4 linked regions of the Homo sapiens genome follow. The protein of the gene in region 1 interacts with the protein of each later gene in a pairwise test. Each region holds a gene or a part of one and is shown on either strand. Other genes may lie near its edges.

Region 1 (7,036 bases):
AAGCAAACATTAGGATAGTCTTTCAGTAGGGCAAAATATTTTAAGTCAGATACACCAGTTTCTTTACTCAAATACTTTAAAAGTTTTCACATAGAAAGCTTTCTAATTTCTACATCTTATTGATTCGCATTCTAAGGAACTGCTTTGCTTTAATAAACAACCATATTTGCCCTTCTGATCCCAGGTTTAAAAATGTTCAATCAGCCATTTGATGTCAAAGAAAACAAAGTAGGCTAAGTCCAATTTCACAAAAACTCTATTCATAGATGAATAAACAGCTTCAGAAACTAGCCGCAGCAAAAAGTGCCAGAAAATAACAATGATGTGAACAAGGCAGAAAGACAGAGGGCGCTCTCTATTCTAAATGACCATCATACTTGGCCAGAGAGGAGCCAGGGGCAGAGGAGAGCATCTACCTTAGCCCTGGCAGGAGGGGAAAGAATGAGCAGACATCCCAACTTCAAATATAATGTTTACATTACTGAGATTGGAAGCTGTCAATGACCCAACTGTAACTAGAACTTGGCTTCACAAAGGCTGAAACTGCCAACACCTGAATCCAAGACACCATCGCCTCCAGAATACTGCAATGCCTTCCAGCTGGATTTCCTGAATTCATTTCTGCTCAAAAACCCTGACTGATCTTTCAACACACAGATCAAATACTGTCACTCTCTGCTTTCCACCGTAACTATTAAAAAATAAAAATAAAAAATTGCACCTCCCTGACCACGACTTGTAAGAACCTACATGATCTGGCCTCTGTGTGTCTCTCTCACCTGCTCTTCACCCATCACCCCCACCCTCGCTCTCATGACCCCACCACAACTTCCTTTTCTCAAACTCTCCAAGCCGGTTCGCACCTCAGGGCCTTTGCATGAGTTATTCCCTCTCCTAGAATGCCCTTCTCCCTAATTTTCTGATGGCTGGTTCCTTCCTACCATTCATGCCTAAATGTCACCTCTGAAAGGCTTTCTGATGACGTCATCCAAAGGAGTCCCCCACCCAGTCCCTCTCCTTCACCTCTCTGCTTTATTTTCTGATTTATGCTTATCAGTAGAAATTTTCTTATCATCTGTTTTGTGGTTGGTGGTGGCGTTTGTCACCCACACATCTACCACACTAAAGCCGGGACTATGGATTCCCAGCACTTAGAACAATACCTAAAACCGAGAAGATTCCCCTAAGAACAGGGGGAAAGCGTCCAAGGAAACAATGAGAAGACCGAAGACGGACTTGATTTAACTTACCTCCTGTATAACAACAAAAGGGTGAATGGAATTGTCATAAATTATTAATAAGCACATGAAGGGTGACAATCAGCCACAACAATATTAAACATTTAAATAAAAATATCCCAATTACACCACCAGTTAACTTGAGTTATTATTGATCATGAATAATAAGTGGGTAAACACATACGCCATACGTTATGCAAGGGGCTTTCCCTGTATTTCCTCTTTTAATTCCACACATATGCCATACGTTATGCAAAGGGCTTTCCCTATATTTCTTCTTTTTTTTTTTTTGAGATGGAGTTTTGCTCTTGTCGCCCAGGTTGGAGTGCAGTGGCACGATCTCAGCTCACTGCAACCTCTGCCTCCCGGGTTCAAGAGATTCTCCTGCCTCAGTCTCCTGAGTAGCTGGGATTACAGGTGCCCACCACCATGCCCAGCTAATTTTTTTTTTTTTTTTTTAGTAGAGACGGGGTTTCACCATGTTGGCCAGGCTGGTCTCAAACTCCTGACCTCAGGTGATCCACCCACCTCGGCCTCCCAAAGTGCTGGGATTACAGGCGTGAGCCACCACACCCAGCCTCCCACACTTGTTGGTTAGGAAGGAACTAGAAGGCACCACCTGGATAGAGCAGAAACCAGGGACGGGACAGGACCACAGAACAGAAGCCTGTGAGGCCTGGTCCCAGCTCCTCACCTCTGGACCTTGGACAATTCATTTCACTTCCAAAAGCCTCCTCCATGCTGCTCATCTGCAGTGGAAACTGCCTTCCTGTGCATCTCCAGGCTTCAGAAGAGTCAAATGAGAACAAATGCAGAAGTGCCCTCAGAGCTCATGAAAATAACATCTGATTTTTTCACTTAAAGCTTACATAATGGGTAAGCCAGTGATGACACGCCAGAAATAGCATAAATGAGAGGAAAGAGAGAAAGCAAGGCAAGAACGCTCAGGTCCGGGAGCTAGAAGACAACACGCTGGGTGAAAAGAGAGGCAGTGACACAGGCATGGGGACACAGACGGGAGGGCCCCTCTCGCTTCCTCACAATAAGGGGAATGCACGAAGGAGCCGGAGCAGGAGTTGTCACTTGCCAATCTCCATGGATAAAGGATGGAGCTACCCCAGTCTCAGCGCAACTCATATATTTGTGCCAAGTTTTTAGAACTGCCATGGTTATTTATTCCTGAAATGACATTTGGTGTCATTTCCCATCAACAATAAAATCTCCACCAAAAGTCAGTTAAGTGTGGTAAACCCCGTGTGGTCACCAACTATAGGATAGTGTGACTAGCCAAAAGCCCATCTCATCCTCCTAGGTCCTACTGAGGATCCTGAGAACAAACTTCAACCACAGTGACCACTGACCACCCCACAACTCCCTTCTTACTACTTGTGTTAAAGATTTTTTTTTAAAGGGGGGCAGGGGTTGGTCCTGAGCATGGTGGCTCCCATCTGTAATTCCAACACTTTGGGAGACCGAGCCGGGAGGATCACTGCAGACCAGGAGTTCCAGACCAGCCTGGGCAATACCACAAGACCCATCTCTACAAAGATTTTTTTTTTAATTAGCCAGGTGTAGTGGCATGTGCCTGTGGTCCCAGCTACTTGGGAGGATGACACAGGATGATCACTCAAGCCTCAAGCCCTGGAGTTTGAGGCTAAAATGAGCTATGATCGTACCACTGCTTTCTAACCTGGGCAAGAGAGCAAGACCCTGCCTCTTATTTAAAAAAAAAAAAAAGGCTGTTATAAGAACTCTTCAAGGAATAAGGAAGAAATCTCAAGGGAAATGTCTCACTTATTTTGCTAAGAATTGCCTGATGCTGTTGCTAGGTGGTGCTTATAAATATAAGCACACACCGTAAGACTGGTTTTTTACTTTAATTAGTGGCAAAGACAAGCCTTCTCAAATTAAGTGTCATCATTCCAGAATGTAAATAAAACAGCTGGAGTACATACCAGACCAGATAGCCCAATACTACAATAGCAGGACTCTAGCAAAGTTTGAAAACACATTTGCAGCTACGTGCTAGAACAGTGCTTCTCTAATTGTGATGGGTGCACGAATCGCCAGGGGATCTTATTAAAATGCAGATTCTGATTCGGCAGGCCCAAGCTTCTGCATCTCTAACAAGCTCCCAGGTGATGCTGAAGTTGCTGGTCACAGACCAGGTACCAGACAGGGGCCAACAGTTGACAGCAAAAACCATCCTATGCCATGCTCACTGCAAGCCCAGGTACTATTTTTTAAAAGTGAGGAAATATGGCTCAAACTAATTTACCCAAGGAAAGCTCACGAAATTTGCAAGAGGCATTTATCACTCCGCTAATCAAGAACCTTCCTGATCAGCTGCAAGTTCTGCCCCGGATCCTCTGACCAGCTGGTAAACGGCAGAGAAATCTCTTTGACACTGACAGGTGCCCCTGGATGATAAGAATACACCTTATGAAAGACTTCACTGCTCAGAGAAAACAGTTTGTGTCCTGGAGCTATAGGAAAAAGGAAGAGAGAAAGCAATAAAAACAAGGAGTAGAAATGTATGGAGAGCTTACATAAGATCACACAGTCAAAAGCAGAACTGGGATACAAACTGAGTCCGGCTCCAGAGCCCATGCTCTGAACCATTCAGCTCCACCCCCTGGTACAAGTAATCAAAGTGACAAAGTGATGGAGTACAGGAGAGCCCCAAGGAGACCACAACTACTAATTAGGGGACCCTGAGCAAATTCTCTCTCTGCTTCAGTTTCTTTAATATGGGCTGGAAATTATTCAAACACCTCACTGGGTTTTCTAAGGATGAAATCAAAGAGGCTGGACAGGTGCAATGTCTCACATTTGTAATCCCAGCACTCTGGGAGGCCGAGGTGGGAGGATCACTTGAGCTCAGGACAAGATCAGCCTGGGCAACAGAGTGAGACCCCATCTCTGTATTAAAAAATAATAAGTAAAGAAGTTTTATAATGAGAGAGCCTAAATAAACACTTAGAACAGCGTCTGCCAAGATAATAAGTGCATCAATCAATGTTTTTCTGTTATTAAGAGAATTTTATCACTGGAGTGCAGGAGAGTGAATGGAACCAAGGAGAGGGTGGAATGAAGAGCTTTTCTGAACTATGGCCAAATGGTAGACCTACGGCTGCTAAAACAAAAAGGCCTCCCTTTCCCAGGGACCACAGAGACTAAAAGAGAAGGTATAACCTAAACTGGAATCAAGGTAACAGAAAGAACTGCCTCTGTCTGGACGGTGGCAGGAAGGGCCTAACAGTGCAAGGTAGTACATTGCAGTTGACCTGTGATGTATCAGATCTCTGTAGTTAACTTGGAAATTCCAGACTTTCCATGGCCAAATAGTCAAGCACCTTAAGACTGCTATGTGTCATAAACAAATAGACACGACAGGGAAAGAGCAAGTCCCGTGGCTTAGACCTTGAGCAAGAAAGCCCCCTTTTCTCTTGGTTGGTGATGGGGACTGCTACCAACACTAGCAGCACCAGAAGCTGGCCAGAGAGACTTCTGTCCTGGGACCAAAGGTGGGTTTTAGAGATGTGCTGACTCAACTACACAATTTTATTATTATTATTATTTTTTTTTTTTTTTTTTTGAGACAGAGTCTCACTCTGTCGCCTAGGCTGGAGTGCAGTGGCACGATCTCGGCTCACTGCAGCCTCCGCCTCCCGGGTTCATGCCATTCTCCTGCCTCAGCCTCCCGAGTAGCTGGGACTACAGGCGCCCACCACCACACCCGGCTAATTTTTTTTGTATTTTTTAGTAGAGATGGGGTTTCACCATGTTGGTCAGGATGGTCTCGATCTCCTGACCTTGTGATCCGCCCACCTCGGCCTCCCAAAGTGCTGGGATTACAGGCGTGAGCCACCGCGCCTGGCCAACTACACAATTGTTGAGAGCCTACCCACTCGAGGCTGATCAACAGCCAAGGCTAGGACAGTTCTGCTGGGACAACCAGTCCCACGTCTTCCTCGTCGAAGGCACTCCCCAGTGGCCTTTTTAAAGCAGAAAAACGACTTGTGGTAGCTGCATTTGACAATGAAATTTCTCATATTTAAATCAAGCTTAGAGAAAAGGACCTCATATAAGTTCAGATTTTGACCTAAGAAGGTTGGACAGGAATGAAGATATAATGCTTTTTCTAAAACAGGGCTGGATATAAGTAGGGAATGTGGCACATGTGTACTCTGAGAACTGAGCTATGAAAATCAGTGCATGTAAATCCCTGTTGCCTGCCTACCAATATCTATTCTCCCCTTTTTCCTTTCTGACCAAACTCCAAGTTTTTTTCAGGGCCACAATGTACCAAACTTAAAAAAAAAGAAAGGAAGGGAAAAAGCAAAAAAGGAAGAAGAAATGAAAAGGAAAAGAAAGGAAAAGAGAGGAAAGGGGAGGAAGGAGGTAGTGAGGGAGGGAGGAAAGAGAAAGAAGAAAAGAAACAAAAGAAGGAAAAAGAAAGAAATTACAGCAACCAGCCTTCCCTGCTGCATGAGGTGGCCATGTGACATTTCTGGCACCTGAGATGTAAACCAGGTCACTTGACAGTTTTTCAAAGAACTCTTTAAAGGGGAAGACTTGGCTGCTACCTGTCTTCTGTCTTCCATGAGACTCCCTTCTGCCTGGAATAGGAAGACAATCATGCAGGAGCCGCCACCTTGCACTGAAGCATTAAGTATGAAAATGAACACCATGTGCCAGGCCATACCCTACGCCATGTGCTACGAATGGCTGAACAAGATGGCAGCGCCATGGAACCCCAATTTGGTTAACCCACTGGGTTTTCTGTTATGTGCGGCTAACCCTACACGTTGTAAAAGATCATTTGCTTTGCAAAGGCCTTTACTGAACTGACTGGCAAGGCGCCATGAACTAGGAATTAATTTGACTTACAAATAACTTTCTGACATGAACTAAAGATAGAGAATAACACAGACATATACTGGATGAGACTCCTCCGCTACCATATGCTATTCAGACCGAATCCTGAAGTTCTATTCATAAATGTAAAGATTGTCGGTGTGGTCTAGATGTGGCCTTGGGAAGAAACTCCTGAGAAAATGGAGTGGAGTGAAGCCAAACCACCTGCTCTGCTGGGTGACATCGGTCAATCTGTGTGTGACTCGGTTTCCTCAACTGCAAAATGGAAATAACTGTTCCTACCTCAAAGGTGGTGGTGCCTATTAAATGAGCTGATATTTGTACAATGCTTAGACATGTGCCTGACACACTGCTTAATAATTACTGAGGATCCACTAACATTACGGTAAAATTGGTGACAGTGTAGCTAAACATTAATAATAAAAGCCAGACAGGTTAATTCATTCTGTAGACAAGAACTTCTTTCCTAAGGCACACATCTGTCAAATAACAAGGAGGTGAGATCCAGCTGTCGACTGTGGCCAGGTTTAGACAGTTTTAAATCTAAGGCCTTCTATGGTTCTCATAATCGCCCTACCCAGATTCATGCAATACCAAGAGTAGCAAAGTCTACATGAAGAGCTGCTTATCAGTAGCATGTATTTATAAAATAAAGGTTGGGTAAAGAGATTAGCAAAGAGCACTAAAAATAGTCCTATAAGCAGACGAGCTTTTGTAAGTCGATAGTTCATTAAAAAGTCAATACTTGAGCATCATTATTATGAGAAATATTCAAGTAATGGGTCACGCAACTTGGAAGATTGCAGCCTCTTATCATCTTAGCCATCTTTTTTAGATTCGAACACAGAACGTATCCAGGTCTTTCTACTAAGCTGTATTTCAGGGTCCAAAAGGGCACAGGCATTTTGTATAACGTA
Region 2 (7,606 bases), on another chromosome or scaffold:
TTCCTCCCTGAGGAGCAGAGGCAGGGGTGGAGGGATGCAGGGAGGAGGAACTCCTCACTACCCTCCCCGCCAAAGATCTTACAAACCCCATCTGGAGCAGGTCTCTAAACTCCTCTCTCCGACACAGAGCGCCAAACTGCCTCTAGAAAACAAGGCATTAGAAGTTTCTCTAGAACAGCAGGCCTCAAGCTCCTCCAAGGGCTAGGAGGTGCTGCCAGTTTCTCAATCACCCTCTGACCTCCCTGACTGCCACACACTCAGATGCGTCTACAAGGAGCCGCAGCAGACAGACAGCTGTGACCATTCCAGGCCTCTTCCAGAGGGGACCCCTCAAGCTCAGCTCAGGGTACCCTGCCCCAGGCAGCCACACTGAGCCGCTGGTCTCTGAAACCCCAGGCTCTAGTGCTGCCCGCCCACCTGGCTCCACAACCACGGCAGGGCCGCAGAGCCTGCCAGACATGGACGGACACGGAGACACACACACACACACACACACACACACACACACACACACAGCCACCCAACCTCACTCACACATACACGCTCAGAGGACACAGGAACAAGCTAGCCCAGAGCAGGAACTTCTTTAGCATTTGCTAATTTGGGAGGCTCTATGAACAAATGACTAATTTACGCCAGAAGCAAATGCCAGGAAACCTGATAGCCCCCTGGGAGCAAGGGTTCTTCCTGGGCCAGCTGTGCACCCTACGAAAAGCTTGCTTTTAAGTTTCACACACACCTTTGACCAATAGGAAGAAAAATGACATAGAAATGTCACAGCTCTAACCAAACACATCTTTCTGTTGGAGTTTTGAACTAACTTCTCACCCTTCTCCTATATAAAGACAATGCGGGTCATTCTCATCCCTTCTAGGTGGACAATTTCACCCTCTCATAACAACTCTGCGAAACACCCCACAACCCTCCCTACACCCGAGCCGACTGGCAGGGCACAGAGGGCGCACCCCTGTGAGGCCAGGGCAGCCTATGGAGTCAGGGCCTGCAATGCACTTCACCCAGTTAAGACACTGCTGAGGGTGGTGAGGGCTGAAAAGCTGTTTGCCCAAACACCGGGCAGCTCAGCTGGCCGCCTCAGTGTGGCGTGCGTGCTATGGGCAGGGGTCTCCCTGCCCTCACTCCTCCGCAGGCCAGCAGTACTTGAGGATGGACTCCTGGAGTTCCCACCTCCCTCCCGCGTCCTTACCATAGCTGCTTCTGCCAACTCCATGCAGAGCGTGTGGCCAAAGGCCTACTTACATGTGGAGCGCAGAAACGCAGCCCTTTGAGGCCAGAGCTCAAGGGAAAGGAGGAGTGCAATCAAATGCAGCAAAAGCTCCAAAGAAAAATTATAGGCTTGTTGGCTGCCACCTCTGGGTGAGTACTGTCCTCTTCCGGAGTCAGTTTCCTGGTCTGCAAAATGTGGGCTGGTCCCTTAAGGATCCTGCATTGTTCGCTGAGGGTGACGGTGTGACGTGTGTGCGGTCTGGCACAGCACAGTGAGCTATGTGCATCTCACCATGGGGAACAGGAGGGAAGGCAAGGCCACAAACCACCCTCCAGATTTTTAATATGAACCCGCTGTAGAAAAACTGGGGGAGACACGGAATCCCACAGTAGCTTATGAGGGACTAACTGGGGACTGGGATGCAGAGAAAAGCTTCCTGGAGGAGACTCAACACCAGACACAGCTCCTCGCGGACACGTCTCCATGCCTGACATGCAGGTGTAGCAGGATGACACAAAGTGGCTGAACTTGTTTCATAAGGAATATCTGAATTTTATTTTTAAAGGAAGTTTTTGGTCTTGCAAGTGGGACAACAGTGTGTTCTGCCAGTTTGTGTCATCCTGCCACACCTGCACGTCAGGCATGGAGACGTGTCCACAAGGAGCCCGTGTCTGGTGCTGAGTCTCCTCCAGGACGCTTTTCCCGGCATCCCAGTCCCCAGTCAGCCCCTCACAAGCTACTGTGGGATTCCCTGTCTCCCCGAAATTAGGGTGGTTTCTTGCCTTGCGACTGGAGAGGAAGCACTGATCCCCAAGGCCACGTGAACACGGGATGAAACGTGCAATTCTCCTGTGCCCAAGGCACAGACAAGAAACGGGAGGCCTGAGGGGCCAGCGCTGGGGCTGACTCCGTCCTGTGTGAGGCTAAGAGGCCCTGAGAAACGCGGGGGGAAAGCGGGAAACAACCTTCGCAGGGGCATAGTGTGTGTGTGTGTGTGTGTGTGTGTGTGTGTGTGTGCGTGTGTGTGTTGGGGGGTATGGAGGATATGAAGGAGAAATACTCAAAAAACAAGTCGCATTCTGGAGCTGGGGGAAGAGGTGAGCTGGGGGTCAGAAGGAGAGTATGGGACAGAGAAGGAGGGGACAGAAAGCCTGGGGCCGTGCGCCCCGCAGAGAGCGCCCGAGAGCCGGCGCCGAGTTCCGCTAGGAGCCCTCCACGCTGGGGGATCCTGGCGCAGAGACAGCGCTGGGCTACTGGCGAGGCTCGCTTAAAAAGCGTCCGTACCCCAGGGTCCCCGTTTGTGGGTAGAAATTCAGTCTGGGACAAGAACAAGAACAAAAACAGAAATGGAGAAAAAAAAGTCTCGGTCTGGTTTTTTAAGGGCAAGCGGACCTCGTGACCAAGCCTCTCTGAGAGTGGAAGCGCAGGAAGGGTCCGGGCTGGGGCGTCAAGGCCAGGCCTGGCGGCAAGGGGTGGGTGCGGCTCGGGGGCCGCGCGCTCAGGCCGCGGGGGTCGCGCGGGAAGCACAGGGCTTCGGGTTCCGAGCGCGGCTCCCGGGAGGGGGCGCTGCCGCCCGCGGCTGGGTCCGGCCCCGCAGCCTCGCGACCAACCCCGCCCCGCCCCGCGCGCCCGCCTGCCCAGACTGCGGCTCCCGCCCGCGCCGCCCGCGCCCACCAGGGACCGGAGAGCGCCCGCACCCATCCGGCCCGGCCCGGCCGCCCAGCGCCTCAGGCCAGGACCCTACTCACCCTGCTCACCCGGAGCAGCCGCCGCCGGCCGGAAGTGCCGGCCACTCGGTTCTCCTCCAGTCCGCGCCTCGTCGCCTTCCCCCAGCTACTTCCGGGACGCTCTAGACAGGCTGGAGGACTCAGCACTCGGTGGTGTCTGGGAGCCAGACGCAGGCTTTCAAAGAGCTGGGTGGCCGCGGAGGGCGTGGGAGGAGAGGAGGCCTGGAGGAGAGGAGTGGGGGGGTCCCAGGGTGGGGGGAGGCGTGGGAGGGGAGAAGGCGCGGGCAGGGAGGGGAGAGGGGAAACGGGGCGAAGGCGGGGCGCGCGGCCTGGGCCCCGGGCTCCGCCCTGCTCTCTCCATCTGTAGAATGGGCGCAGGGCGTCACATTCCTTTCATGACAGTGAACCCTGCGCTGAAGGCGTTGGGGCTCCTGCAGTTCTGGGGCAGCCACAGGCGCCCAGGGTTTCGTGCCGATCAGCCCAGGACGGTCTTCCCGGTGCAGTTTCTGATGCGGGGAGGGCAGTGCTGCCTTCCGGTCACCAGGACCAGTGCTCAGCCCGCCTGCTTGACCCCCTTACTTAGCTGGGGTCCAATCCATACCCAATTTAGATGATTCAGACGATGGGATTTGAAACTTTTGAACTGGGTGCGACTTAAGTGAGTATGGACCTGAGTTGGTGCTGTAATGAGTTGAGGCTGTGGAGGACCTTGAGATGGGTGCGTGGATTTTGCCCATGGGACCTATGCAAATTTTGGAAACTGGAGGGTGGACTGTGGTGGGCAGAATAATGGCCCTCCAAGGATGTCCACATCCTAACTTCCAGGTCTTGTGAATACATTACTTACATGGCAAAAGGGACTGCAAATGCAATGAAGTTAAGATTCTTTAGGTGGAGAGATTCTTATGTTTATCAGGGTGAGCCCAATGTGCAGTCGTCCCTGGGTATCCATAGAGGATTGGTTCCAGCACTTCTCAAGGATGCTAAAATCCTTGATGCTCAAATCCCTTACATAAAATGGCTTCGTATTTGCATATAACCTACACACATCTTCCCGTATACGTTAAGTCACTTCTAGATTACTTATAATACCTAATACAATGTAAGCGCTATGTAGATAGTTGTTATACAGTATTGTTTAGGGAATAGTGACAAGAGAAAAATTTGTACATGTTCAGTACAGACACAGGTTTTTTTCCGAATTGTTTGTATCCTCGGTTGGTTCCATCTGGATGCAGAGCCCACGGGTTCAGATAGGAGGGCAGGTGCCATATCAGGGGTTCTTGTGGGAGTTAGGAAGCCAAGTGAGAGGACAATGGGATGAAAGAGGAGAGAAAAGGAAATGTGACAACAGACACAGGGGTTGGAGTGATGTGCTTTGAAGATGGAGGAAGGGGCCACAAGCCAAGGACTATGAGCGGCTTCTAGTGGCTGGGAGAGACAAGGAAACAGGGCCTCTCCTGGAGCCAGCAGAAGGAATGCAGCCTGCTGACCCCTTGATCTTAGCCCATGACACTCATTGTGCCATTAGACTTCTGAACCCAGAGCTGTAAGATATAAATTTGTATTGTTTTGGATCACCACGTTTATGGTAATTTGTTAGGACAGCAATAATAAACAAATACAGATTTGGGTAGCTCACTCCTCCTTTTTCCTTTTTTGAGGTAGGGTCTCACTCTGTTGCCCAGGCTGGAGTGCAGTGGTACATTCTCCTCACCGCAGCTTCAACCTCCTGGGCTCAAGGGATCCTCCTGCCTCAACCCCCAGAGTAGCTGGGACTACAAGCATGCACTGTCTCACCTATCTTTTTAATTTTTTGTGGAAACGAGGTCTAGCTGTGTTGCCTAGGCTGGTCTCGAGCTCGTGGACTCAAGCGATCCCAAAATGCTGGGATTCCAGGCACGAGCCCATGTGCCAGCTCACTCATCCTTAGGTCCGTTGTTACCTGGGCTCCCAGCACCCTCCCACCCTCTGGTTCTTCTCTTCCTCACCCTCCCTTGCTGGTTCCTTACTGACCAGGCCATTCTTTGGCTCTTTTTGTTCAACCAGTCCCCACTCCCTGGGTGATCTCCTCCAGTGTCATGCCGTTAAATACCATCCAACACTGGCAACGACCAAATTCATGTCTCCTGCCAGGGCCCCTCCCCAGAAATCCAGACTCCTATGTGCTAGCCAATGTCTCTGCTTAGCTTTGATCCTCCAGCCCAGCCTTGCTCCATCTGCATTGCCCCCACCTTCATGAACGGCAGCTCACCTTGCTATTCACTCAGGCTCAGCCTCAACAGTCTCCATCCCTCATATCCAGATCCTCTACCCTCAAAATCCAGCCAGTGTTTGGCCTCTTCTCACTCCCTCCAACTGCCCTCCCCAATCCACACCTCTGTGGTCTTGCCTCCTCCCCAGTCTCTGTTTCTGCCCTTACCCCCATACAGCTATCAACTGCTGCATCAAAAACCGCCCAAAACTTAGCAGCTTGAAACCAACTGTTTTTATTGCAGATGATTCTGTGGGGCAGGAATTTGGCCATGCTAGAGTCAGATGTGTTTCACAGAGGAGGCTGAGTCACGGAGCATACCAGGCACATGGCAGGACTGGAACCCAAGGTCCCTGGACTGGGGCTCCCATGGCAGGGTCTCCTGGGACAGCAAAGTCCTCCCTCCCCCGGAAGGCTGGCTCCATCCCTGGTGCGACTCTGCTGCTGAAGCAGCATCATTGGGGTAAATACCTGGGGTTCATTGTCTCACACCAAGAAGATTAAGGACATGGACTCATGTAGATGGGTTAAGGAGCAGAAAGTTTAATAGACAGAAGAAAGGAGAGAAGAGAGCAGCCCTCTCTTTCGAAAGAGGCGTCCAAAAGAGAAAAGCCAGCCTGCAGCAGACCCCAGCAGATTTTATAGGCAGGCTTGAGGAGGCAGTGTCTGATTTACAAAGGGCCCACAGATTGGTATGACCAAGGGTGATGTTTACATATGGCGTGGGGAAGGCTGGTCGCCCCACCCTAATCTTATTATGCAAATGGGCTTCTACTTGGCCAGCACCATCTTGTCTGCTCCTTGCTGTACACATGGCTGGCAAAGAGAAGGGAAGATGGAGCTGCCATTTTGATCATGCCTAGTCTCAGGTAGCTTTTTCCCATTGGCACAACTGCTGGCATTCACGCGTGCAAGCTTCCAGCTTGCTTGTCTTATGTTTGCGGCTCGATTTTACAGGCTGCTCTTTGTTAGAAAAGAAAATGATTTGGAGCCTGCTTTTCATTAAAAGGAAAACCTTACTGAGGACTTCCTTACCCTCACTATCTGCCTAAATAATTTATTTTTAACTCCTATTTTTAACTGCCACCTCAGGGACATGGGATCACGTGGTCTCCCAGGACTTGGACAGTGCTGGTGGGCAGTGGGGATTGGCATGAAACTGGGGCCTCATCCCAAGATGCATGGGGCTCCTCCAGGTGCTCCTACCATTACTCACGGAACCTTGGGCCTCTTCTCGAGGACCAAGTCCATTCTGACACTGGGAGGGGTCAGAAAGAGAGGAAGAAAATACACTAGCGTGTAATCACCCAGTGGGTTCATTTTGACCCCTGGCAAGATAGAGCTGATTTAGCAAGACAGGGGAATTGCCATAGAGAAAGAGTTTAATTCATGCAGAGCCAGCTGAACGGGAGACCAGAGTTTTATCATCACTCAAATCAGCCTCTCAGAAAATTCGGACGCTAGGGTTTTTCAAGGAGAGTCTGGTGGGCCAGGGAATGGGTGCTGCTGGTTGGCTGGGGATGTGGAAAATGGTCCTCCTGTGCACTGAGTTTGCGTCCAGGTGGGGCCACAGGACCGGCTGCGGGGTTGGTGGGCCTCGCTAGAGCCATCCATCAGTCATTAGACGTGCAAAAACCTGAAACGACATCTCACAAGGCCAATCTTAGGATCACAATAGTGATGTTACTTGCAGGAGTAATTGGGGGAGTTGCAAATCTTGTGGTCCCTGGAATAACGGCTGGGAGTCGTTTCAGTCTAACCTCAGCAGAGCTCAGATCCCCTCATCTTCCTAATGAATAACGGCTGGGAATCGTTTCAGTCTAACCTCAGCAGAGCGCAGATCACCCATCTTCCTAATGAATAACGGCTGGGAATCGTTTCAGTCTAACCTCAGCAGAGCTCAGATCCCCTCATCTTCCTAATGAATAACGGCTGGGAATCGTTTCAGTCTAACCTCAGCAGAGCTCAGATCCCCCATCTTCCTAATGAATAACGGCTGGGAATCGTTTCAGTCTAACCTCTGCAGAGCTCAGATCCCCCATCTTCCTAATGAATAACGGCTGGGAATCGTTTCAGTCTAACCTCAGCAGAGCTCAGATCCCCCATCTTCCTAATGAATAACGGCTGGGAATCGTTTCAGTCTAACCTCAGCAGAGCTCAGACTCCCCTCATCTTCCTAATGAATAACGGCTGGGAATCGTTTCAGTCTAACCTCAGCAGAGCTCAGATCCCCCATCTTCCTAATGAATAACGGCTGGGAATCATTTCAGTCTAACCTCAGCAGAGCGCAGATCCCCTCATCTTCCTCATGCAGTGGTGGCCTTTCGTTAGCTTTACAAAGATGGCTGAGTTTTGGAAAAGGGCTGTTATGCCCAGAAATGACTAAGGGCAGTTTGGAGA
Region 3 (7,036 bases), on another chromosome or scaffold:
CCCACCTGTGGGGCCTGAGGGGCTGCCAGGCACGGCCAGGGTAGCCAAAGGGAGTGAGGTGGGGCTCTCTGCAGATAACTTCTCAGAAGTTCCCTGAGCTGCCCTGTCAGGGAAGAGACTGGTGAGCTGACATCAGTGTGCAGGGCCCCCTGCGGCAGGAGCTCATCTAATTCAGCCTGTGCCCCCACACTCACAAGGGCCCAGCACAGCACCTGGCGCCCAGTAAGCACGCAATGCATGGCAGCCCGTCCAACGATGAGCGCGTAAGAAAGCTGAGCTTCCCTCAAAGGAAGGGAGAGACGCCACTCACACAGCCAGACAGAACCTGTGTTCCAGGCCGGGCACCCAGCGGGGGAGCAAAGGCCCAGAGGGCAAGCCAGGCCTCTGAGAGACCAAAGGCAGGTGTGGGTTTTAGGGACCAGCCTTAGCTGAGAGCAGGGATCCGGGAGGACTGACCGTCCTGGAGCCCAGCGCAGGACAGAGGCAAGGTGGGGTGGGGAATGCTTCCTCCTGGGAGAGCTTTCCAGAATGCAAATCAATCATATTTCACCCCTACTTAATAATGCCCTAGAGCCCCGTTGCTGATGGGGAAATGTTCCCATTCCTTGCTGTGGTAAAGGCTCTTTACCAAGAAACCCATAAGCTTGCCCACCTCCTCTCCTGCACCTTCCTACGAACAGGGAATGAGGCAGAGCACTTCTAGGGGCCCCCCACTCCTATGGAGGGAGGGAGGGAGACAGGAGGTGGGTGCGGGGAGGGGCATGGCCTGAGCCTGTGGATACTCCTGGGGCCCAGCCTTCCCACCAAGAAGACATTTCATGTTCTCAAAATGCCTTGGTTGACTTGCCCTTTGTTTTTTTGGCATTCCCTGGTGTTGTTCCTTCTGAAAACTCCACTGGTGCTAAAGAAAGGAATTTCAGCCCACACGGCAGCTAAGGAACCGTGTGGGGCTGAGGCAAGGAGTAGGACTCCTCTGCTCCCAACACACATGCCCAGTGGCCATGCAGACAGGCGCAGGGCACACCCTCCCACTGACCACTGGCCATGGGAGGAGCTACTGCCCAGGTCAACAGCCTCAATCCCGACCATCCATCATCCTCTGGTCACAGGCTCAGCGTATTCTGAGCCTCTGGTAGAAAACATGGTTTTATTCTGGGGGAGGCCAGTGTTCCCACCCCAGCCTCCTTCCCTGGAGGAAGGCCCCAGCCCAGGTCTCCAGCCTCTCTCCCTCTGACCTGCCCTTCGGGACCTTGGGGCTGGTGATCCCCCAGCCTCCTTCTCTGGGCCACATCCACTCCAGGAAGCAGGGCTGGGCCCTGCCTAGGTGCTCCTCTGCCAGGAGGGCCTTGTCCTGGCTCCTGCCAAGGCACCCTACCCAGCCCACGGCCCCACTGGATCCCTCCTCTCCTTGCGCCTCCCCAGCCCCGGGCTGGCCTCTGCAGGTTCCACCCCAACCAGTGCAAGGGAAGGCTGAGCCGGCCGTCTCAGGGCACCTTCTGACAGTGTTGCTGCTGTCAGCTCGCTCTGCTGGCCTCAGATCTTGGAGGACTCGAGCCGGGGACTCCAGGGTGTGGGGGGCTCCCGCAGTGCCCGCAGTTCCTGCTCCAGTGCCTGGTTGCGGCGGTACATGTCCATGTACCCTCCCTGGATCTCCCGCTGGTAGCGCAGCACGCGCTCCTTCTCCTCCTGCCAAGTCCGCCGCTCCTGCTCAAAGCGCAGCGCCTGCTCCTGGCCCCGAAGTCGCTCCTGCAGCAGCTCAGCCCGCAGCTGCTCAGCACTGTCTCTGGCCTCGCTGCCTCCTGCCTCCCCTAGCAGGCCCCTGCTCTTGCAGTCATCAGTCTCACAGCTGCCTGGGGCTTCCTCCCGAGGGGCCTGCTCCTGCAGGCTGCGCACAGCCTCGCGCAGCCGGACCAGCTCTGCGTCCTGAGCCTGGGCTTGTGCCCGGCTGCCCCGAAGTTGTGTCTTCAGACTGAAGATCTCCGCCAGCTTCTGGGCCAGTTCCGCCTGGGCTTCACGCAGCTGCTGCTTCAAGAGGCTAATCTCTGCTGTCTTCTGGCACACCTGGGGGATGGGGAGGACGCAAGCAAAGTAGGGTGTGGGGAGCCGGTTTGGGAGGGGGCAGGCAGAAGAAGGGACCGGCAATGGAGATGGGAGAGTCTCGGAGCCCTGTGTCATCTCTCACCTCCCATCGGGCTTCCTCCTCTGGTCGTGCACTGGGGTCAGCCTCTGGGAGGGTGCCGGGGGCCCGAGGCTCCGGAGCCAGGCCCTGCTGAGCCCGCAGCTCCTTGCGCAGGCGCCGCTGCTCCTGCTGAGCCATAAACAGCTGCAGCTGGAGGTTGCGCTCGCTGCGCTCAGCCTTCTGGGTCACCTCGTGCAGCCGCTCCACATACAGGCGCTTCAGCTCAGCCAGCCACAGCCGCTGGCGCTCCTCCAGCACCTGTCAAGGGGAAGAGATGCATCCACCGTGGCCCTGCCCCCTAGAGGCGACTCAGAGCTCCACCTGATACTCCAGCCACTGATCATATCCTGTGCCCCTACACCACAGGACCCAGCCACACATGCGCTTTAACCCGGGATGCCCTCCAGGGTGAGGTGTCCCCATCACATGGCCCTCCCAGGGAGCCTCTCTCCTTCCCACACAACTCCCAGGCAAGGACCCCCAGTGACATGACATCCCCACCACCTGGGATGCAGAGGAAGGAAGCCAAGCCAGCTCCCCCTTTCTTGCTCTCTTGTGTCCACGGCCACGTGGGTGAACTGGCTGGGGCCCCTCTCTCTGGCCTGTACCCCAGTGCTGAGGCACAGAACAGGACTCCAGGGCAGGGGCTCCCTCACCTGCGTGAAGGGGTTGGAGCCGTCCTCATCGCCAAGGCCCCTCTTGAGCTCCTCACAGGTCTCGGGCAGCACGGCTCCCATTTCCTCGGCAGAGGAGCAGGAGAACTCGTAGGGGGGTGGTGGCTCGGGCAGGCAGCTCAGCACAGCTGGTGGCCCAGCCTCCTTGGGTCCTTGAGAGGCCCGGTCCAGGGAGCCCCCGAGGTGGTTAAGGTGGCCAAGGGAGGAGCTGAAGGGGCTAGGGCCAGTACCAGGACTGCGACCAAAACTACCCCCACTGGAGGAGTCGGACAGGCTGGGCTCGGGCTCAGGGCCGCCCTCATCTAGGCTGAGGGCGTGCAGCAGCTGTGCCCGGGCCTGGCTGGCCCGGGGCCCGGGGCTCAGGGGCGGGTGGCAGGCCAGCGTGTGCAGGCTGCCATTGCTGCGCCACAGCTTCTGGCCTTTGTGGGACGCCAGACTTTGCATGGATAGGAAGCCTTTCCCGTTGCCCGCCGTAGGCTTGAACACTGAGGGGCGAATGCGGCACTGCCAGGAAGAGAGGGCAGAGAGGGCAGGTGTGAGACCTGGGCAGCTGCCTGCTCTACCTCCTGATGCTCTCACAGCCCCTGAGGGATCCTCTTTGAGACCGCGGGGCACGTGCCACCAGGAGGCAGTGAACAAACCTCAGGCCAGCCCATAGCACGATTTTCGTATCTCAGCATGCCCCGTCCCCACCCCATCCCAACATCAGGGTCTCCAAGGAGACCCCACCCTCCCCACACCTTGTAAGGGGCATGGGCAAAGGTGCACCTTGTCAAAGCGACCCCGTTCTGGCAGCGAGGTCTTGCTGAAGTCACCCGCGCGAGAATGTTCCCGGTAGTAGAGGGTGGCATAGTCGGCAGGCTCGTTCCGAGGGGCCCGCTTGGTGTTCTTGGTGCTCTTGCTGTCCTTCTTGGGGAGGTGCAGGTAGCTGAGGAACTCACGCTGGCCCAAGCCCTTCCGGAGGAGCCCATCAGGCTGGCGGGAGCCCCGAGACCCGGCAAGTGCCGCCCGCAGCTCTTCAGGGGAGAAGTCCTGCCGTTCCAACAGGCTGCCCACGCTGCCCATGGCAATGCCAGCAGGGCCTGGGGCTGTGGCCATGAAGTTTCAACAGGGTACAGGCAGCTGCTTCTGGGAATTGGGAGGCTCCATTAGGGGCAGGTGAGCACTGGCTGCCCAACTTCCCTGGGGCCTGAAAACAAGGTACTTGCTCCCTGTAGCTCCCCACAACCTTGCCCAGGCCCAGGTAAGGCAGATGTGGGTCCAAGAGAGAACCCCGGGACAGGATCCCTAGACTGGCAAGAGAAAGAAGTACAAGCCCCAAAGCCACCTGCCCATCTGTCACTTGCTGGACTGAGTCTAAGGAAGAGCAATGGTGCCCCAGCCGAGCACCGAAGGGCCAGCTCCACCTCGGGGCCTGTGTGGGATTCAGAAGTACCGGGAGGGGATAGGCCTGGAAGCAGCAGGACAGGAGCCGTCCTCCCAGCACTGGGCCCGCACAGGGCTAAGGAAGACAAACTTGGCCGGGCGCGGTGGCTCACGCCTGTAATCCCAGCACTTTGGGAGGCTAAGGCAGGCAGATCACAAGGTCAGGAAACGCAGACCATCCTGGCTAACACTGTGAAACCCCATCTCTACTAAAAATACAAAAACTAGCCGGGCATGGTGGTGGGCGCCTGTAGTCCCAGCTACTCGGGAGGCTGAGGCTGGAGAATGGCATGAACCTGGGAGGCAGAGCTTGCAGTGAGCCGAGATCGCACCACTGCACTCCAGCATGGGCGACAGAGGGAGACTCCATCTCAAAAAAAAAAAAAAAAGAAAACTCAGCCTGGCTGAACCTGACCTTGCTTACCCTCCTGCCATGTTCCCCACCAAATCTGTGGGGTGGGGAGAAGGCACAGAGACCCAAGGCCAGTGAGACCCTCCTTCCCATGGGAGAGGGGTAACCCCTGCAGGCCCTCTTCCTGCAAAGGGCAAAGCTCCCCAAGGGAAACATCTGGCATGGGGGGGAGGGTTGGGGGCTACAGTGGGAGGGATACAAACAGGAAGGGCCCAAAAGGAGGAAGGATGACGTGAACAATGGCCACAGTTTCCGGGACAGGTGTTCCCGTCTGGGCAGTGGTGGGTGGAGGAGGGAAGGGGCAGCTGGACTCACTCCAGCCCCTGTATATGCTCTTATTCCAAAGCCCACCACCCGGCAGGGTGGGTCCCAAATCCTAACCCTGGCGGAACCAATCGGTGTGTGACCCCGGCCAAGCCACTAACCTCAGTGAGCCTGGACTTCCGCACACACACCCTGGCGACAATAACACTTATCACTGGGATGCTGGGAGGATGGGGTGGGATAACATGACAGAGCACCCAGTTCAGGGCCTGGGCCACAGCCAGGGTCAACAGGCTGGCTGGAGCCGAGCTCAGCCAGGCACACAAACATCACCAAGGGACTAGGCTGACGGACCACCTTCCACCTGTGCTGGGCCACACACTCTGGAGGCAGGGCTGGTACCTAGTCCCCTGGGGATCCTCTGCACAGCCCAGTGCCCAGCATGGAGCGGGCGTGCAGAAAGGTCTGGCCGAGTGAACAAATGCCACCTTCTCTGCCTCCCACCCCTGAGCAGCTGCTCCCATTCTCGAACAGAAGCCCAGCAGGCCAGCTGCAGCTGTGGGTCCCCTACTACCACCCATGCTTCCGGGCACCCACTCCTGCCCCCGAACAATGGTCGTTAGGAGGTTCCATCTTCCTCAACCATTTCCAGGTTTTGTGTTTGTGGAAGACAAAGCTCTCCGGGAGGGGGACCTGCCCCAACCCCACAGCCTCACCTCACCCTGTGCAAAAATGACCTCAGCTCTCCCCCAACCAACCCCCAAACCCAGGATGGGGCGAATCCGGGTTTGCACACCCCACCCAGCCCAGCCCCTGAGAACGCACGTTGCAGGCTACATAGGAGATGCATCCAGGTAAGGAATCACAGGGGATGGGTTCCTACAGCGACTTGGCCCTGCATACGGGTCCTGCTGAGTCCTGTGACAGAGTTATTGTCCCTTCTTTTTTTTTTTTTTTTTTTTTGAGACAGGGTCTTGCTCTTCACTCTGTCACCCAGGCTGGACTACAGTAGTGCAACCATGGCCCACTGCAGCCTCGAACTCCTAGGATCAAGCCATCTTCCCACTTCAGCCTCCTGAGTAGCTAAAAACACAGGTGCGTGACACTGTGCCCAGCTATTGACCCTTCTTAAAGGTCAGTGGGGCTCAGAAAGGTGAAGTGACTTGCCCAAGGTCGTAGCTGGTCATGGCTGCCCAATGTCTAGTGGGACCTAGGATTGGTCCCTACAGCCAAAAGTATTAGAATGGAAGCATCCTGCCTCCTCATCTGATACCTCCTTGCCACGACAAGCCCATCCAGCCAGAGATGTGGTTTGTCCACAAGCACGCTCAACTCCTGTTGCTGCTTCTTGGGGAGGGGACAGCAGAGACCTGCTCTCCAGCCTGCCCTCACTCTCTCCAGGGGACCCCAGACACAAATGCTCCGCCTTTTGCCATGCCTCAGTTTCTGCATCTCTGAAGCGGGAAAGGGCCAGGCATGGTGGCTCACACCTGTAATCCCAGCACTTTGGGAGGCTGAGGCAGGAGGATCACTTGACCCCAGGAGTTTGAAACCACCCTTAGCAACATAGCGAGACCCCATCTCTATTTATTTTTAAAAAGGAAAAAAAAATGAAGTGGGAAAGACCCCGCCTGCCCGGCTTTCCTCAAAGGATTACTGACAGTCAGAGATGGAGGGGAAAGGGCTTATGAAATGTAAGCCCTGTGTGGCCCTGGGGGCGGGGACGTTGGCAGCAGTGCCAAATACGCCCACCTCACCCCAAATGCACACCGCCTCAGCTTCCGGTGGGCAGATGCTCACTTCCTGTCTCGAGGAGATAACCGACCCCCAGGTTCCCCACGAGGCATCGCAGGTCCAGGGAAAGTCCCTGAGCTAGAGGTAGCCACCGGCCGCAACAGCGCATACAACCACACACGCCACGGTGTGCCACATGTCAGCCCCACCCAGCAGCACAGAGAGCCCATGTTAGAGGACACGGTGCAGACGGTCACGTCCAGCAGCAAACACAATCATACAGCTGTGCACAAGGTCACCCACAGGACACACTGACAAAGCAGGAGCAGCCCAGTGGCATGATGACCT
Region 4 (2,735 bases), on another chromosome or scaffold:
GTTGATCTGTTCATCTGTTGGTGGATGCTTGGGTTGCTTCCACCTTTTGCCTATTGTGAAAAATACTGCTCTGAGCATTAACGAGCAAGTATCTGTCCGAGTCCCTGCTTTCAGTTGTTTCGGGTATATACCCAGAAGTTGAATTGCTGGATCATATCATGTTCTATTTTAATATTTTGGGGAACTGTCATACTGTTTTCTACAGTGGCTGTACCATTTTACATTTCTATCAGCATTGCCTCAGGGTTTCAATTTCTCCATATTCTCGCCAATGAGGGCCTACACTCTTAATCATTGTACCATATTGCTGATCCAAGGTAGATGAGTGAGAAGAGTCATAAAAAACATGGTTGTATATTCCCAAGAACTGTTTTTGTTAAATGTTACAGTCTTGACACACATCCTTTCACCACTCTAGGAGAAAAAAATACTGCTAAAAAATAGACTATTCTTTGTGTTGTAGAAAACTGATGAATTTTTATTTCCTTTCAGTTTTTCTAGATGACATTCAATCCCCTCCCTGCTTTGGTTAACATCATTACTTCAGTTTATTGAATATATTGAAAAAAATGTATATAGTATTCTAATCATAGTTTTCACTTACAGCTTTTGAGAAACTGGGAAACAGTCCAGTCTTGTTAGATGAGTGGGTTACTTTCTGCAAAAGACTATGGTATTTTTTATAGCTCAAAGTAGATCTGTCTGAGGACATTGCAACCCTTTGTGCATTGATTGACTGCAGTGAATAATTCAAGATGGAATGAAGGCTTTAAACCTCATTATTGTTTGGTCTTGTAGTTTTCAAAATTATGTACTGTGAAGTCTTCAAAGTGGGCTTTAGAATTTCTTAAAAATTAATCTTTTAACTCAATATTTACTGTAATAGTGTTCTCTTTGAAGGAAGTTTTAACTTTGGTTAAAAATGCTTATGATATAAAAAAGACAAGTATTGTTTTTGTTTTGCTTTTAGTGGCTGACAAGATTTTGAAAAAGAAAGAATACCCTCTTTATATAAATCAAACCTGCCATAGAGTTACTGTTTCTCCATACACAGAAATACACTTGAAAAAGTATCAGGTAAAGTCATCTCTGTTCTCTCATTTTCAGAACTCACTGCCCAAACCCACCCCACAAAAAATAAAGTTGTTGTGAGTCTGTTACTTATGCATCTTATCAATGAGGGATAGCAAAATGGTTTCTTTACTTCATTTTTGCTTGGTGCAAAATGAGTTTGTCTTTTGAAGGAGCATTTTAATGCAAAACTGTACTTTATTATACAATTTTTAAAACTGAAATTACTCAGATAATGGCACAATTTTTATTTTTGTACATGGAGACATAGTTGCATTTCTCTCATATGTCTACTGTCAGTGAGCATGAGAAAGAATTCCTGCCTACTTTCTCTGAACTCATTATCTTTACCCCAGACCTGCTCCCTTTTCCTCTTCCTTCTCAGGTATCCAATGGTACCACCATCTACCTACTCCACCAACTTAAAAGCTAGAACTCATACTTAACTCTTCAGTTTGCTTCACCTCCAACATTCATTTGGTCACTAAATCTTGCCAGCTCCACTTCTGACTACCTCTTTACCTGGTCTTTCTGTTCCCAGAGCATCCCTCCTTTCCTCTGTGTTCCATAATGCCACCAGAGTTCTCTTTCTAAAACTCAGATCTGACTTGGATATTCTCTTGCTTGGAAAATCTTCCTAAGATTTCTTGTCTCTTCTAAGATAAAATAAAAAATATTAAGCAGAGATTATGAATGTAAAGTTTTGTAATTCAAAGCTCTTAGAAATCTTTCTATTTATCATTTTTTCCTTCTTAGATATTTTCAGGAACATCTAAGAGGACAGTGCTTCTGACAGGAATGGAAGGCATTCAAATGGATGAAGAAATTGTGGAGGATTTAATTAACATTCACTTTCAACGGGCAAAGAATGGAGGTGGAGAAGTAGATGTGGTCAAGTGTTCTCTAGGTCAACCTCACATAGCATACTTTGAAGAATAGACTTAACAGAATCATGAAAACTATAGCTTTTTAACCCGGATTACTGTAAATGTTTGACAAAAATGAATATGCTTTTCCTTAAAAAATGAAAACTTTAATTTTTACCATCCATTTATGTTTAGATACAAAACTTATTTCCATGTTTCTGAATCTTCTTTGTTTCAAATGGTGCTGCATGTTTTCAACTACAATAAGTGCACTGTAATAAAAAGTTTTGTTTATAGATTATGTGTATTGGTGCCATGTCTGCTGAAATCAACCTTAAGTGATTCAGATGTCCCCTGCCAGTGCTGGCTCATCCTGTTATGGTCTTGTGGGCCAATTCAGTTGTGGCCCCATGCCCACCAATATGCAGACTTGACTCTTAACATTTTCCAAAACAAAGGCAGTTACATTCAGCAGTTGGTGATTCCTGTAAACTCAACTGAAGATTCGAAGGACTTCAAGAGCAACCATTTACCACTGTGCATAGCATTTCACTCCACAACTCTAAAGGTTCTCAGAGCTGAGTGTGATCTTTTTCTTGAATTTCTGTTCACCCAAGTGCCAAGTGTCCCTTGATTCCTTCCAAGCCATCCCCTCTCCAAATAGAGCTCGTAAAGGACTAGCTTTTTCTTTCTTTTGCACTTACAATGGAAACAATTGGTATAAGAGTTTGAAAACCTTGGCATGGAGAGAGAGGTAAATACAAAGTTAGTGACTCATCACTTATCATGCTCGATGCT

Evidence for each region.
Region 2: the proteins of CNKSR3 (region 1) and JRK interact in binary tests that used the Homo sapiens proteins (3 or more experiments, as listed by UniProt).
Region 3: the proteins of CNKSR3 (region 1) and N4BP3 interact in binary tests that used the Homo sapiens proteins (3 or more experiments, as listed by UniProt).
Region 4: the proteins of CNKSR3 (region 1) and NMI interact in binary tests that used the Homo sapiens proteins (3 or more experiments, as listed by UniProt).

Annotation. Positions count from the first base shown.
Region 1 is NC_000006.12:154,500,680-154,507,715, forward strand, and holds part of CNKSR3 (connector enhancer of kinase suppressor of ras 3), read right to left. Parts: intron 1-7,036. UniProt on the Homo sapiens protein: Involved in transepithelial sodium transport. Regulates aldosterone-induced and epithelial sodium channel (ENaC)-mediated sodium transport through regulation of ENaC cell surface expression.
Region 2 is NC_000008.11:142,666,959-142,674,564, forward strand, and holds the start of JRK (jerky protein homolog), read right to left. Parts: upstream 3,010-7,606; 5' UTR 2,974-3,009; intron 2,722-2,973; exon of another isoform or gene 1,258-2,721; intron 1,252-1,257; exon of another isoform or gene 87-1,251; intron 1-86. UniProt on the Homo sapiens protein: May bind DNA.
Region 3 is NC_000005.10:178,116,499-178,123,534, reverse strand, and holds part of N4BP3 (NEDD4-binding protein 3), read right to left. Parts: exon of another isoform or gene 3,982-7,036; 5' UTR 3,952-3,981; coding exon 3,622-3,951; intron 3,358-3,621; coding exon 2,836-3,357; intron 2,438-2,835; coding exon 2,183-2,437; intron 2,062-2,182; coding exon 1,534-2,061; 3' UTR 1-1,533.
Region 4 is NC_000002.12:151,269,968-151,272,702, reverse strand, and holds the end of NMI (N-myc-interactor), read left to right. Parts: intron 1-970; coding exon 971-1,077; intron 1,078-1,827; coding exon 1,828-2,010; 3' UTR 2,011-2,233; downstream 2,234-2,735. UniProt on the Homo sapiens protein: Acts as a signaling pathway regulator involved in innate immune system response.